3 separate regions of the Homo sapiens genome follow, and all the other regions are linked to region 2. Evidence: fine-mapped expression QTL. A gene starts in region 2. Each other region holds a variant in brackets. All regions are shown on one strand. Distances are from middle to middle.

The links. PIP is the estimated chance that this variant, and not a neighbour inherited with it, causes the effect.
Region 1: its variant is fine-mapped to the expression of PYCR2 in vagina (GTEx, PIP above 0.99).
Region 3: its variant is fine-mapped to the expression of PYCR2 in adrenal gland (GTEx, PIP above 0.99). The same link has a PIP of 0.9 or more in ovary.

Annotation. Positions count from the first base shown.
Region 1 is chr1:225,886,687-225,891,907 of GRCh38, forward strand. It overlaps LEFTY1 (left-right determination factor 1), which reads right to left and starts at 2,460. Exons shown (of 4, transcript NM_020997.4): 1 at 2,131-2,460; 2 at 1,100-1,346; 3 at 713-952; 4 at 1-404. The coding sequence starts at 2,380. The coding sequence ends at 41. RefSeq lists enhancers at 459-1,175, 3,329-4,046, 4,047-4,764, 4,765-5,221 and a silencer at 4,503-4,797. The variant C/T (reference allele first, on the strand shown) is at 2,390.
Region 2 is chr1:225,921,282-225,926,477 of GRCh38, forward strand. It overlaps PYCR2 (pyrroline-5-carboxylate reductase 2), which reads right to left and starts at 2,969. Exons shown (of 7, transcript NM_013328.4): 1 at 2,763-2,969; 2 at 2,420-2,490; 3 at 923-1,102; 4 at 577-798; 5 at 271-363; 6 at 1-90. The coding sequence starts at 2,829. MIR6741 (microRNA 6741) reads right to left here and starts at 861; the gene lies at 799-861. RefSeq lists silencers at 2,566-2,695, 3,006-3,095, 3,236-3,315 and an enhancer at 2,866-3,515.
Region 3 is chr1:225,963,669-225,968,889 of GRCh38, forward strand. It overlaps the pseudogene NDUFA3P3. Among named protein-coding and RNA genes, the nearest start is that of LEFTY2, 25 kb to the left of the region's middle. The variant A/G (reference allele first, on the strand shown) is at 2,909.

The DNA of each region.
Region 1 (5,221 bases), 35 kb before region 2:
ACACACACAAGTCAAGTCCCTCGATGGCTACACTAGGCGCCTATGGCTGGAGCCTCCTTGGCACGAGCGCACCATCCGAGGCACAGCTGCACTTCTGCACCCTCATGTTGGGCAGGCTGACCACCTGGGGCCTGGTCCTGCCTCCCTCCTTGATGCTGACGATCATGGGCAGCGAGTCAGTCTCCGAGGCGATGCACTGTCGAGGCCCCAGAAACGGCCACTTGAAGGCCAGGGCCTCCGGGGGCTGCCGGCAGGTGCCCACACACTCATAAGCCAGGAAGCCCGGGGGCTCCAGCACCCAGTTCTCGGCCCACTTCATCCCCTGCAGGTCAATGTACATCTCCTGGCGGCAGCAGCGGGTGCCCTCGGTCATTGGTGCTTCAGGGTCACAGTCGCCCTGAGCTCTGTGTGGGCAAAGAGAGCAGGGTCAGCGGTCAGCTGGGAGGGCTGAGGTCAGAGGGCGTCTGGGATGGAGATTTATGATCCACCTCTCAACTTCAAAAAGCTGGATGTTTGTGATATAGGATGGACAGCTAGAAATAACTTGAAAATTAATAACCGATATTTACTGAGGATCTCCTAAGAGTCAGAGGAAGAATTGTATACATTGTCTCATTCATTCCCACAGCACTCTGAAAAGTTGTCCATTTCAAAATAAATGTAATTGCCTGTCTCTTTATTCCGGCTTACCAGTTTGACCCTCAGCACCTACCCATAGTCCCCAAGGTCCAGGGTGTGCAGCTCCAGCTGGGGCTCCCCAAGCCCGGCTGGCGCCCCCTGCGAGGCAAAGCGGACCAGCTTGTGGGCGCCGGACGCCAGCGGGCCCAGATGCTCCCTCTGCACCGACACCTGTAGCAGCAGCGGCTGCCGGGGCCGGCTCAGCTGCTGCCAGAAGTTCACGGCCTCGGTCACGTCGAAGGCCTTCCAGCCGCTCTCGTGGACGGACACCAGCCTGAGACATGACACAGAGACCCAGCGCCGCTTGAGGGCGGGGACTGGGACGGGCCCCGAGGACCCCGCACCGCCCCCCCGCGTCCCCGCCCCCAAGCCGGGCCTAGCAGCGCCCTCCCCCTACCCTGCGCGCCCCCGCGACCCCCACCTGGAGTCGATGAGGGAGGTGCGGTTGGAGCCGTCGTCGCGGACGCGCAGCCACTCGACGGTCACCCGGGCCCGGGCGCTGCGCGGGGACAGCCGCCCGTGCCTGTGCAGCGCGGCCTTGGGGACCGGCTCCTGGAAGAGCCGCAGCACGGCCTGCACCAGCTCGCTGTTGGGCGGCAGCCGCTGCTCCATGCCGAACACCAGCAGGTGTGTGCTGGCCTCCAACGCCAGGAACCTGCCGGCCACCTCTGGGGACAAGAGCAGGGTCAGCAGGGCCTCCCCCGACTCCAGGGGAGCTCTGAGGATGGCAGGGCCACTGAGCTGGCAGCCAGGCCAGGAGACACCGGCCCTGTTCTATTTCTGGGGCAAACCCAGTTTACAAATCTTCCTTGGATCTGGGCCTTGTTTAGTAACAATTTCCATCCAGCAGGCAGGGGCGCCTGTGGGACCCTGGCTAGCAAGTTTGCCTCAGCTGAGATGCTGGGAGCAGAATCCTCACCCAGGTGCCTGGCATTGGGTCTAGCTCTGGGCACTGAGGAGCTAGGGAGGCGAGAGGCTGCAGGAGGATTCAGGCCGGCTGCAGGAGGATTCAGGCCCGCTGCACCCCTGACAGCCAGGTATAACCCAGGTTGTCTACTCAAGTGCAGTATTTTTCAGTTACCCAAACACGCTTCTATTTACAATGACTCATTTTGATGTTCACAATGCTGGAAGATGGGCAAGACATAGTTATACCCCAGTTCCATGTGAGCAAATGGTTGTGAGATGATTTTAAAGCAATATGCTCCAAGTAGAACTCAGACCAGAGTGGCAGTACGAAAACAGACCCCCGGAGTCCTGACTGCATGCACCGCTGCATGCTGAGGCCCCGCCATCCTCACAGGCCCGGCCCCACCTCACTGCCCCTTAGACCGTGGCCCTCACTCAGCCTCCCACAGACCTCTGCAAGGCCAGGAGCCCTTTGACACCACCGGAGTGGGCACATCTGACCTGCCCCATGGGACCAGGGGCAGCAGGGAGGGAGGGCCTCACCTCGGAAGCTCTGGCTGAACCTCTTTCCGCGGGAGCGGTCCCCGTGGCTGCGCTGCAGCAGGGCCACGTACTGGGCCCTCACGTGGGTGGGGATGACCAGCTCCTCCATGTCGGCCCTGTCCAGGGTGGGCACCTCTTTGAGCTGCAGCTGCCGCAGCAGGCTGCCCAGGAGCTGCTCCCCGGTCAGGGCGGCCCCGGGGCTGGCCAGGGGCAACACCCAGAGTGCCCAGCAGAGCCACAGGGGCTGCATGGTGCTGCC[C/T]TGGAGGAGCAAGAGGCAGAGTGGGGCTGTCCCTTGAGAAGGCTGCAGGAGGGTCTCAGGCAGCTGGATGTGCTGAGAGCCAAGCCTGGGCAGCTTTATAGCCTGGGGTGGAGGGAGGAGGTAGGGAGTGGGGAGGGAAGGAGGGAGGGAGGTCACACCCCTGAGACCTCCTGGAAGCTCACAGCCAGACGAGTCCCTGAGCTGGGAGGAGGGGGCTGTCTAGATAGGGCAAGTCTGTCTGGGCTGTGAACAGCTGGCTACAGCTGTCTATACAATGGTCATGAACCCCTAATGTGGGTTGAGGCCTGACCAGTTAAATTAAAAAGCTCATTTCCTAGAGTAGAGGTGGGGCTCTCGTTCTCTGCAAGAGGCTCAGTTCCCCCAGCTGCTGGTAAGTGGACCTAGAGTCTTGTTCCTTGCTGCAACCAAACAACTGACAGGAACCAGAATGGCTCAGGCAACGCCAGGGCTCTAAGGGCCAATCCAGTCTGCAGGGATGAGCATCCGGGCCCGTGCTCAGAGGGTCCCGGGGCCTCATGAGATCCTGAGCTGGTGGTCCCCAGTTGTGAAACCAGATTTCCCACTGTTCTGGGGGGACCTTCCTAGGCAAGGGAGCCTAGGAGCATTTAGTTCCAACGGGGTTTTGTCCAATAAGGAAGGAGCCTCATCCTCTCCCTCATCCCTGCTGTTCACAGAATTAGAGTTTAGAGTTGAAAGGAATATCCAGGCTACCTTCTCCCCCAATTTTTTTTTCTTTTGAGACAGAGTTTCATTCTTGTTGCCCAGGCTGGAGTACAATGGCGCAGTCTCGGCTCACGGCAACCTCTCCCAATTTTTGAGCTGAAAAAAAACCGAGGCTCAGAGGTGTCAACTTCCCGAAGCTCACAAAGTTAATGATCAATGTCCATATAAAGTCAGGTCTTGCAATTCACAAAGTTCTTGGCACACTCAAATTATTTACAGCCTAGTTTTGATCTATGCCCTAAAGGGAGCCAGGTGGTCTCAATCCAGGTGATCAGGTCTAGGCTGGGGCAGGGGGACAATCCCCCAAGACAGAGGACCCCTATCCTGAATGTGGATTTGTAAGCTGGTTGAAGAGTTTTGCTGGGGAAATAAAACATTTGGGTGATCAGCCAGGGGTAGGGCTACCAGATAAAATACAAGGCACTATTTGGGACATAATTATACCAAAAAAATTATTCATTGTCTACCTGACATTCAAATTTCACCAGAGTCCTATATTTTTATTTGCTAGATCTGACAACGAAAAATAAAACAAATGTGGATTGGGAGACTGTTTACAATGGTCTGAAGTGTTGCCAGGAGGGAGGGCAGCCCCACCCTTTGTCATGCAGAAGACGGAGCCTGGCTTCCCCAACCATCCCCACCTGGGTCTGCCCAGATTGGGCTTGAGATGGTAAAGTGGCCCCAGAACCAGATCTTCTATCTAAGGGAGGAGAGCGGGGCAAGGGAATGAGTGATCCCTACCCTGACTCAGAGCACATTTGGACCTGGCCCTCGGCCCAGAGCTAAGGGCACTGGAGGGCAGTGGTCTGGCCATACTGGGGAGAGGGGGAGGGGGCCCAGGTAGGAGGGTGGATGAGGAGTGGGGCCCTTTGCCCTCGAACACCCTCCTGCCCCTGGTGGGCCAGGATGTGACCCCAACCAGAGGCCAGGTTGCCAAGTGAGAGCCATGGGAAAACATGGGGGTCAGAGGTCATCCTGGGGCCTCCATGGATGGGGATGAGCTGGACTCAGGCCTGGGCTCTGACGTCAGCAAAGCTAAGAGTCCAGGAGTGGAGTGGCTTCTAAGTCAGAGCCCAGCATCTAGGGTCTCCAGGGTGGCTTTTGCCCCCTTCCTGGGCAGGGGCAGATACTTCTGAGAGTGCTCAGGAAATGCCCCAAGGCCAGTCCAGGTGTCCTGGGCTGCCCCAACCCACACCATCAACCTCCCTGACCCCAGGCCTGGGGGCCCATGTGGCTCCTTGGTGGTTCCAGGCACCCCCTGTGTGGGCACTTCCTGTTCTCCCAAAGTAGCTCAGACTCTGGCATCATCAGGGGTCCTTCCCTGGGGCTCTGTCTGGGCTGAGGAGGGTGGGAAACAAACCAGGAATAGGGACCCGTTTCAGTTCATCCAGCACCTTTGTGTGGTGGGCACATCTTGCCAGACAGCAACAACTCAAGCATGGCCTGGGAAGGACCCTTTGTCCCTTGGTGATGTTTGTTCAGTGTTCCAGGCTATGGACCGTGGGAACGGCCAACCTGGATGTTTAATTATGTTTAACTATGAAGAATGTCAGGCCCCTGGCCTGTTACTTGGAACACAGGCTGTACAAGGAACAGAGGTCCATTGTTTTGAGGTAGGTGGAGGCTGCTAAGTAGAGGTTGCTAGATGGAAGTTGCAATGTGGTTTTGGGCTGGGCGTGGTGGCTCACGCCTATAATCCCAGCACTCTGGGAGGCCAAGGTGGGCGGATCACTTGAGGTCAGGAATTGGAGCCTAGCCTGGCCAACATGGCAAAACCTCGACTCTACTAAAAATACAAAAATTACCTGGGCTTGGTGGCAGACGCCTGTAGTCCCAGCTAGTCAGGAGGCTGAGACAGGAGATGCGCTTGAACCTGTGAGGCAGAGGTTGCAGTGAGCCGAGATTGCACCACTGCGCTCCAGCCTGGGCGACAGAGTGAGACCCTGTCTCAAAAAAAGCCAACCAAACAAACAAATGTTGCAATGTGAAGGTTTCTACATGACCTGCACACTTTTCACAAATGGCAGCGGTTGCTCCTGTCCAGCCTGCCGCTCCTGGACTTCCCCCTGTGCGTAAGTCCCTTGA
Region 2 (5,196 bases):
GGCGTGGATGGTGGCTCCCCCAGGGGAGCAGACATTGTCCTTAAGCTGGCATGGATGCTGCTCCGAGTCCAGCAGCATCTTGGCAGCTCCCTATGGGGAAGGGCACATTAGGAGAAAGTTGCTGGTGTGCGTTGGAACAGGCTTCCCATACCCACTGCTCCTGCCCAACTGCTACCCCAGCTTCCCAACCAACTCCCACCTCAGTTCAGTGATGCACAAGAACCCCCATTCTACACCCTGGTCCTGAACATGCGGGGGAAAGATACTGACCAGCAAAGCCTGGGCCCCGAGTTGGATTGCCAGGCGCCGTGGCAAACCCATCTTCACCCCACCATCAGCCAATGCGTCCAGAGCCATGAATGCCTGTGGAGACACTCACTAAGCCCCAGGCCATAGGCACTGAAGGGCCTTTCCTTAGGTCTGCTTTCTGATGACTAGAACTAGCTCCAAGGGTCAGCATCCTGTACCAGCCAGCTGTGCCCAAGAGGTGGGCGCCACCCCCAGTCCAAGCCTGCCTGCCAGCCCATCTTGCTGCCTGGGTTCCTAGAAGGCTGAGCGAGCAAATGAGGGCCTCACATAGGCAGGCCCGCTGCCACTGAGCCCCGTGACGGCATCGATGAGGTCCTCTTCCACCTCAGTGCAGAAGCCCACGCTGCTCATGAGCTGCTCCAGGAGCTGCCCATCCTCCACCAGGGCATGGGTGCCCGTGGCGTACACTGTAGCGCCTTCCTGCACTACCACAGGTGTGTTGGTCATGCAGCGAATCACTTTGGGGGCTGGCTGGAATGCCATCAGCTTCTAGGGTGAGGGAGAGAGCCGAATGAGTGGCCAGGGCACGGCTCCCACCAGCACCCACCCATTAGCTGCCATTCGTGGGTCAACCCTCCCCTCACACAAGGGGCATCAGGGCTGAGATGGGCACCTTCTCCACAGAGCTGATGGTGACACCAGCCGCACAGGAGACCACGATGTGTCTGGCTTGCACGTCGGCCCCAATCTCATCCAGGATGAAGGGGATGATATGTGGCTTCACAGCCAGAAACAGGACGTCGCTGTGCTTCACCGTCTCCTTGTTGCTGCGTGTCAGGTTCACACCCATCTTCTGCAAGAGGAGACTCCCAGCTCACAGTGCTGGAGCAGCCTGGCTATGCCAAGGCCTCCCAGGGAGCAGCTGAACCCCTGCCAAACCGATTCTGCCAGATGCAGCCTGGAATTCTTAGCTTTATGCCCTCAGGGTTCTACCCCTACCCCAAATAATACAGTTTCCCATTGTTGCTACTGGACAAGTAAGCACAGGCTTGGAGCATGACAAGCTTCTCCATGGTAACCAGGAAGTGGCTGCCCTTCTTCCCTGCCAATCTTCTGGTATCTAAGGCACTCCTCTGCCAGGTAAGAAGGCCCTATGGTGAAAGTGGCAGGGCAAAGGGAAATGCTAATACCTGGTCGTTAAAAGCACAGCTGAGTCAGGCCCTATCCTAACCCTGGCCGCTTGTTCGTGGGGACCGCACAGTCTCCATGTGGTCCAGGGCTAGGCTGGAAGCCATCCATCCCTCTATGACTCCAAACTGAGAAGCAGGACCCTCCAGTGCTAGGGACATCAGCCCACCCTAGGCACAGACACTGCCTGTCACCTGCCTCATCAGCCATCCTCTCCCACAGAGCACAGGTTTTGGGTGAAGACTTGGAATATGTTTTTGGAGAACAGAACAACTAACTCACCAGATTCTTCCCAATATGCTCATTCACGACTCAGAATAACAGCAAAGTGGCCACTGTTGTAAATGAGGAAATAGCCTCAAAGTGGCTGAGTACTTTAAGGTCATACAACTCGTCTATTAAGAAAAATGGCTGAGCGCAGTGGCTCACCCCTGTAATCCCAGCACTTTGGGAGGCCAAGGCGGGCAGATCACTTGAGGCCAGGAGTTCGAGACCAGCCTGGCCAACAGTATTCTCTACCAAAAATACAAAAATTAGCTGCGCGTGGTGGATGCCTGTAATTCCAGCTACTCGGGAGGCTGAGGTGGGAGGCTGAGGTGGGAGGCGGAGGTTACAGTGAGCTGAGATCGCGCCACTGCACTCCAGCTTGGGCGACAGAGTAAGACCCTGTCTGAAAAAAAATTTAAAAAATGAGTATTTATTAGGTACCTACTATGTGCCAGGTGCTTTCATCACATAATCACCTCAGTTAATCCTCTACCACTCCAGTGTCTGGATCTGACCCCCAGTTATGTCTCCCTGGGTGTTCCCACCACATTGAGCTGCCCAAGAGAAGGTGGAAAGATTGTCACGTTCCTGGAGTAAAGGTCACCGCCGGCCAAAGACCAGCACTTGGGCGCAGGGGCCGGCCAGACTCACTTCATCTCAGGTCATCCTTTTCCTGGGCCTCCACCCGCTTCCCACTCCGCCCGGCTCCACCTACCCTGAGCGCGGACACCGTGGGCAGGTTCATTTCTGGGGAGCTGGCTATTATCTTGTGAGCCGACAGGATGCCTGCAGAAGACAGAGCTTTTCAACTAGGGGTCGCGGCCCAGCCCGTTACCACGCTTTCCCTGGCTCTAAAACCCAGAGCCGTCCTAACAGTGCCAGTCTCCCTCTCCCCCTCAACCCTCTACGAGGACAGAAGACGCACTTGCTGCTCAACCAGAGTCTCATCTACCCCACCGGACGCAAACTCCCCTTTCATTCGCTCATGCTGGTGGGACGGAGGCCCCCTCGGGCCTCGGGACCGCCCGCGAAGCCGCCTCCCGCCTCCACGCGCTTGCCTGCGGCCGTGAAGCCCCGCGCCAGAGCATAGGCCAGCTGGCCGGCCCCGATGAAGCCCACGCTCATGGTCCGCGGTTCACGCCTCCTGGGAGCCGCACGAACCCCCTCAGCGAGGGACCGGAAGTAACGCTAGGGGAAGGGCGGACAGCGCAGGGGCGAACGGGCGGCGTGCCGAGGACCGGCGAGCTAACAGCAGCTTCTGGGATGGTGCAACCCTATTCTCCCCCGGCGGATATCTCCCGGGCGGCTGATGGCGCCTTAGGCCACGTGGCCCCGCCCCGTCCGGGCGACCAATCAGTGGCCAGGATCTCGGGGCAGGCCAATCCGCGGCCCGAGCCAGGCCGCGTGCCCGCCTCCTCCGCTCGCGACTGGAGGGCGGAACTCCGGGCTGGAGTCCCGGAAGCCCCTGTGGCAGCTTGGCGTGAGCTCCAGGCGCCCGCCGGCCCAGGACGCCCGGCCGCCCCCACCCCCCCCCCCCACCCCAAGGCTGAGGTCGCCGTCCCTAAGCCACCTCGGGCTCAGGGCTGAGGCCTGGCCCAGGCCTGGCTAATATTATTTCTGGCGCTGGCCATCAGATGCCCCTCAAGGCCCACAGGAATTCTCCAGGTTGCCGATTTGCGGGGATGAACGAGGCCCTCCTGGCGTAGGTTCAGACCAGGTGGCGGCGAGGTTCAGACCAGGTGGCGGCGAGGCGGCACCAGGGTGGTCAGCCGCGGCTTATTCACTTGAACTTGAGTGTTTCTCGCGAATTTGTCCAAACTAGATACAAGAAGGACAAGTTCGAGTCTCCGACTCTTCCGCGATCCCGCACCCCCCAGCCCCTTGCTGTCACTTGCCTTTTTTTTTTTGAGACGGAGTTTCACTCTTGTTGCCCAGGATGGAGTGCAGTGGCACGATCTCGGCTCACTGCAATCTCCGCCTCCCGGGTTCAAGCGATTCTCCTGCCTCAGCCTCCCCAGTAGCTGGGATTACAGGCGCCCGCTACCACGACCGGATAATTTTTGTATTTTTAGTAGAGACGGGGTTTCACCATGTTGTTCAGGCTGGTCTTCAACTCCTGACATCAGGTTATCCGCCCGCCTCGGCCTCCCAAAGTGCTGGGATTATAAGCGTGAGCCACCGCGCCCGACCTGTCTCTTGCTTTTAAAAGCTCCACCAATGTGATGTTTCCTTTTCTATCAGTAGTAAATATAAGGGGCCGCAGGGAACAAATGACAGAAGTAGAGAGGAAGAAGGTGGCGTTCCTAGAGGACTCAGAAGAGCTGAGGACCCTTAGTTCCCATGGTCTCTCTGCTAGCTTTTCTAGTCCTTTCCGTGTAATGCACACCCCCACTCCCAGGCAAGGGGCTGCTTTCTGTGAACTTCCCTGAGCAAGTCCCCAGGCCCTCAGTTTGTGCACCCTTTAAAGTGAGGACCAAATATAATATTTACTATTAAGCAAAATAATGCTATGTTTTATTTATTTATTTATTTATTTATTTATTGAGACAGAGTTTCGCTCTTGTTGCCCAGGCTGGAGTGCAATGGCACGATCTCGGCTCACTGCAACCTCCACCTCCCGGGTTCAAGCGATTCTCCTGCTTCAGCCTCCTGAGTAGCTGGGATTACAGGCATGCGCCACCACGCCCGGCTAATTTTTTGTATTTTTAGTAGAGACAGGGTTTCTCCATGTTGGTCAGGCTGATCTTGAACTCCCGACCTGAGGTGATCTGCCTGTCTCAGCCTCCCAAAGTGCTGGGATTACAGGCGTGAGCCACAGCACCTGGCCTCTGTATTTTTTAAATTCGAAAAGTAATACAGACATATTGAAGAAAGTTTGGAGATAAAAGTAAAAATAAAATCATCCACATCATACTTCCCAAAGATAGTTTCTTACAAACATTTTTGGTGTATTTCCTTACACTATCATGTCCTATGCATATCTACTTTCTCCATCATTGGAAATAAATGATGTACATGTAGTTTTGAAATTTCTCTAGTAGACATGAGCATTTTCCAATGTCACTGAAAAGTTATTTAAGACAGTTTTAATGACTACTTATTATATGTATGTACCTTACTGATTTAACCATTCAAAGGTCAATGTTAGGTTTATTGATTTATATAATAGATAACTTACTGAGCCAGGTTCTGGGAGTATAGCTATGAACAAAACAGACAAGTTCCTGTCCTCATAAAACATCAATTTATTATTATTTCTTATTTTTATTTATTTATTTATTTTTGAGACGGAGTCTTTGTTACCCAGGCTGGAGTGAAGTGGCATGATCTCGGCTCACTGCAACCTCCATCTCCCGGGTTCAAGCGATTCTCCTGTCTCAGCCTTCCGAGTACCTGGGATTACAGGCATGTGTCACCACGCCTGGCCAATTTTTGTATTTTTAGTAGAGATGGGGTTTCACCATGTTGGCCAGGCTGGTCTCCAACTCCTGA
Region 3 (5,221 bases), 42 kb after region 2:
GGCATAGTCATGGGCCCCTGTAATCCCAGCTACTCAGGAGTCTGAGGTAGGAGAATCTCTTGAACCCAGGAGGCAGAGGTTGCAGTGAGCTGAGATCGCACTACTGCAACAGAGCGAGACTCCATCTCAAAAAAAAAAAGAAAAAAAGTCAATAAGAAAAGGACAGTCAGACAATTCAATGAAAAAAATGGCAAAAAAAAAACCTCACAAAATGGGCAAAAGACTAGAATAGGCACATGGTAGAAGAGGATATCCACGTGGCCAATCAACAGGAAAAAATGCTTGGCTTCATTAGTCATCAGGGAAATGCAAGTTAATACGTGATGTGGCCGGGCACGGTGGCTCATGCCTCTATTCTCAGTGCTTTGGGAGGCTGAGGCGGGAGGATTGCTTGAGCCCTTCAAGACCAGCTTGGGCAACATAGTGAGATGAAATCTCTAATCACACACAAACTCACACACTCCCACTGTAATAAATATATATATATATATATATATAAAGCCGAGACCAAGATGGTTGTGAGACTTGGCGCCTTCCTCAAGAACTCCTGGGCCAAGGAGCCAGTGCTGGTGGTCTCCTTCGTCATCGGGAGCCTCACTGTAATTCTGCCCCCACTCAGCCCCTACACCAAGTATTCCATCATGATCAATGAGGCCACACCCTACAACTATCCAGTGCCCGTCCACGATGATGGGAACATGCGGACATGTGCAGCCACCCCCAGGGCCCCCAGGGCCCCAGCTTGGAGTGGCTGAAGAAAGTGTGAGCACCTCCACTGACAGAAGAGGCCCCTCGCATGGCTCCCAATAAAAATGTGAAAACCAACAACTTTATATATATATATATATATATATATATATATATATACACACACACATATATATGTGTATATATATATGTATATATATACACACATATATATGTGTATATATATATGTATATATATGTATATATATGCGTGTATATATGTATATATATGTATATATGTATATATGTATATATATGTATATATGTGTGTATATATATGTATATATATGTATATATATGTGTGTATATATATGTATATATATATGTGTATATATATGTATATCAAGTGTTGCTATTTCTCCCAATATCTCCTAAAGCTGAATATTTACACATCCTGTGACCAGCATAGGTATATAATCAACAGAAATATGTTCATGTGTGTGATGGTTAATATTAAGTGTCAACTTGATTGTGGCCGGGCGTGGTGGCTCACACCTGTAATCCCAGCACTTTGGGAGGAGGCTGAGGCTGGCAGATCACTTGAGGCCAAAAGTTCAAGACCAGCCTGGTCAACATGGCAAACCCCGTCTCTACTAAAAATACAAAAATTAGCCAGGCATGATGGCGCGCACCTGTAGTCCCAGCTACTCAGGAGACTGAGGCAGGAGAATTGCTTGAACCAGGGAGGCAAAGGTTGCAGTGAGCCAAGATTGCGCCACTGCACCCCAGCCTGGGCGACAGAGCATGACTCTGTCTCAAAAAAAAAAAAAGTGTCAACCTGATTGGATTGAAGGATGCAAAGTATTGTTTCTGGGTGTTTTTTTGTGACAGTGGTAGCAGAGGAGATTAACATTTGAGGCAGTGGACTGGGAGAGGCAGCATGGCTAGAAATAGCAGGCAGGAGATGGAAGGGCAGAGTTGCTGAGTCTTCAGGCCTTCATCTTTCTCCCGTGCTCGATGCTTCCTGCCCTGGAACATCAGACTCCAAGTTCTTTGGTTTTTGGACTCTTGGACTTACACTGGTGGTTTGCCAGGGGCTCTCGGGCCTTTGGCCACAGACTGAAGGCTGCACTGTCAGCTTCCCGACTTTTGAGGTTTTGAGACTCAGACTAAGCCACTACTGGCTTCCTTGCTCCTGAGCTTGCAGAGAGTCTATCGTTGGACTTTACCTTGTGATCTTGTGAGTCAATTCTCCTTAATAAACTTCCTTTCATATATACATACATCCTATTAGTTCTGTCCCTTTAGTTCTGTCCCTAATACAAGGTGTTGATCAAAAGCAAGTTCTAGAATGTTCAGGCTGACTCTGGGCACAGTGCCTATGGGTTAGTCCTCCTACAAAAGGAGCAGCACCAGTTCAGTAAAATTGCTACAGAGAGAGAGAGAGAGAGAGAGAGAGAGAGAGAGAGAGAGAGAATGTTCCATAGTGTAGGGAAAAGAAAGAGAGATCAGACTGTTACTGTGTCTATGTAGAAAGGAAAGACATAAGAGACTCCATTTTGAAAAAGACCTGTACTTTAAACAGTTGCTTTGCTGAGATGTTGTTAATTTGTAGCTTTGCCCCAGCCACTTTGACCCAACCTGGAGCTCACAAAAACATGTGTTGTACGAAATCAAAGTTTAAGGGATCTAGGGCTGTGCAGGACGTGCCTTGTTAACAACATGTTTACAAGCAGTATACTTGGTAAAAGTCATCGCCATTCTCTAGTCTCAATAAACCAGGGGCACAATGCACTGCGGAAAGCCGCAGGGACCTCTGCCCTGGAAAGCTGGGTATTGTCCAAGGTTTCTCCCCATGTGATAGTCTGAAATATGGCCTTGTGGGATGAGAAAGACCTTACCATCCCCCAGCCCGACACCCATAAAGGGTCTATGCTGAGGTGGATTAGTAAAAGAGGAAAGCCTCTTGCAGTTGAGATAGAGGAAGGCCACTGTCTCCTGCCTGCCCCTGGGAACTGAATGTCTCAGTATAAAACCCGACTGTACATTTGTTCAATTCTGAGATAGGAGAAAAACCGCCCTATGGTGGGAGGCAAGACATGTTTACAGCAATGCTGCCTTGTTATTCTTTACTCTGCTGAGATGTTTTGGTGGAGAGAAACATAAATCTGACTTACGTGCACGTCCAGTCATAGTACCTTCCCTTGAACTTCATTATGAC[A/G]TAGATTCTATTGCTCACATGTTTGTTGCTGACCTTCTCCTTATTATCACCCTGCTCTCCTACTACATTCCTTTTTACTAAAATAATAAAAATAATAATCAATAAAAACTGAGGGAACTCAGAGACTGGTGCCGGTGCAGGTCCTTGGTATGCTGAGTGCCAGTCCCCTGGGCCCACGGTTGTTTCTCTATACTTTGTCTCTGTGTCTTATTTCTTTTCTCAGTCTCTCATCCCACCTGACTAGAAATACCCACAGGTGTGGAGGGGAAGGCCACCCCTTCACATAGCAGCACCATTAATAATACCCCCAAACTGGGAATTATCCAAATATCCATCAATAGTAGAGTGGATGAATTGCTGCACACTAGAATACTATAAAGCAACGAACATGAATGAATGACCACTACTCATGAATGAATGAAACCGTATAGGGAATCCCACATACATCATACATGTAAAAGAAAACTTGCCTTCTCTCAGATTCCATTTATACAAGTCAGGATAATGGTACCCTTGGAAGGTAGTGACCAGAAGGGGTCTCCAGGGCTTTGGAGTTCTTATAATGTTCTGTTTCTTGATCTGGATGCTGGTTACAGAGTTCATTTGTAAAAAAAAAAATTCACGTTGTACATTCTGATTTATTCATTGTTCATACTGTTTGTATGTTATATTCAATAACACAATTTTTAAGACACCATTAAGGAAATGGAAAGCTGAGAGTAGGAGGAGACATTTGCAACACATAAAAATATCACTTAGGTCTTTGCCTTTACTCTAAATTAAGTAAGGGGCCAGGCGCGGTGGCTCATGTCTATAATCCCAGCACTTTGAGAGGCCAAGATGGACAGATCACCTGAGGCCAGGAGTTCAAGACCAGCCTGGCCAACAGAGTGAAACCCTGTCTCTACTAAAAATACAAAAAAAAAATAGCCAGGCATGGTGGCGCGCAACTGTAGTCACAGTTTCTTGGGAGGCTGAGCCATGAGAATTGCTTGAACCCTGGAGGCAGAGGTTGCAGTGAGCCAAGATCACACCACTGCACTCCAGCCTGGGCAACAGAGTTGAGACTCCGTCTCAAAAAAAAAAAAAAAAATTAAGGGCTTTTTTTTCTTATGATCTCTTCATCTTTCTCTATGAATTTTATGTGTTTCTACAGACATATATAATTTGAAAATAAATTACTCTTTTTGATTTATGGAATATGTTTCTCCCCATTACAAACTTCTAAATGGAGATGAGTGGAACTTTTGCTATTTCTCTGGAGAAAAATTTCAAATTATTTATGTTGCCCTTGTTTTCTTCCCCCTTTGGCTAAAAGATTTTGTAGTTTTATTTTTTAAGCTCTTCATTTCCCCCCCCACATTCTTCGTTTCCCTCTCTCCCTACATCTTCTTCTTTTTTTTTTTTTTTTTTTTTTCTGAGACAGTCTTGCTTTGTCGCCCAGGCTGGAGTGCAATGGTGCGATCTCGGCTCACTGCAACCTCCGCCTCCTGGGTTCAGTGATTCTCTTGCCTCAGCCTCTCCAGTAGCTGGGGTTACAGGCACTCGCCACCATGCCCAGCTAATTTTTGTATTTTTAGTAGAGACGGGGTTTCACCATGTTGGCCAGGCTGGTCTTGAACTCCTGACCTTAGATGATCCACCCACCTCGGCCTCCCAAAGTGCTGGGATTACAGGTGTGAGTCACCGTGACTGGCCTCTCCCCACACCTTCACAAAACTGCTGGCAACTCACGAGAGGATGCCTGCTGTCAGCATCACCCTCCTTGATGTGACGTAAGAAGAAACTGAGACCTTCAGTCCAGCTCCATGATCTGCAGGGTATAGTGCAAGGAAGAGGAAGAGAGGGGAAAACTAGGCTTCCTAGCCGTCGAACTCAGCCTTTTCCAAGGCCATACATCACCTTCTACTATTAGTATCATTTATTTATTTATTTTTGAGACGGGGTCTCACTCTGTTACCCAGGCTGGAGCGCAGTGACGCGATTATAGCTCACTGCGGCCTCAACCTCCCCAGGCTCAAGTGATCCTCCCACTCAGCCTCCTAAGTAGCTGGGACTACACACGCACCACCATGCCTGGCTAATTTTTTTTTTTTTTTTTTTTTTTTTTTTTTTAGTAGAGACAGGGTTTTGCCCTGCTGCCCAAGCTGGTCTCAAACACCTGGGCTCAAGGGATTCGCCTACCTTGGGCTTCCAAAATGCTGGGATTACAGGCATAAACCACCGTGCCTGGTTCTATTAGTACTTTTATAAACAGCATCTAGGACAAGTGAGCAAGTGACAACAAATCACGCCAGGTGGCACCCCCAGCCA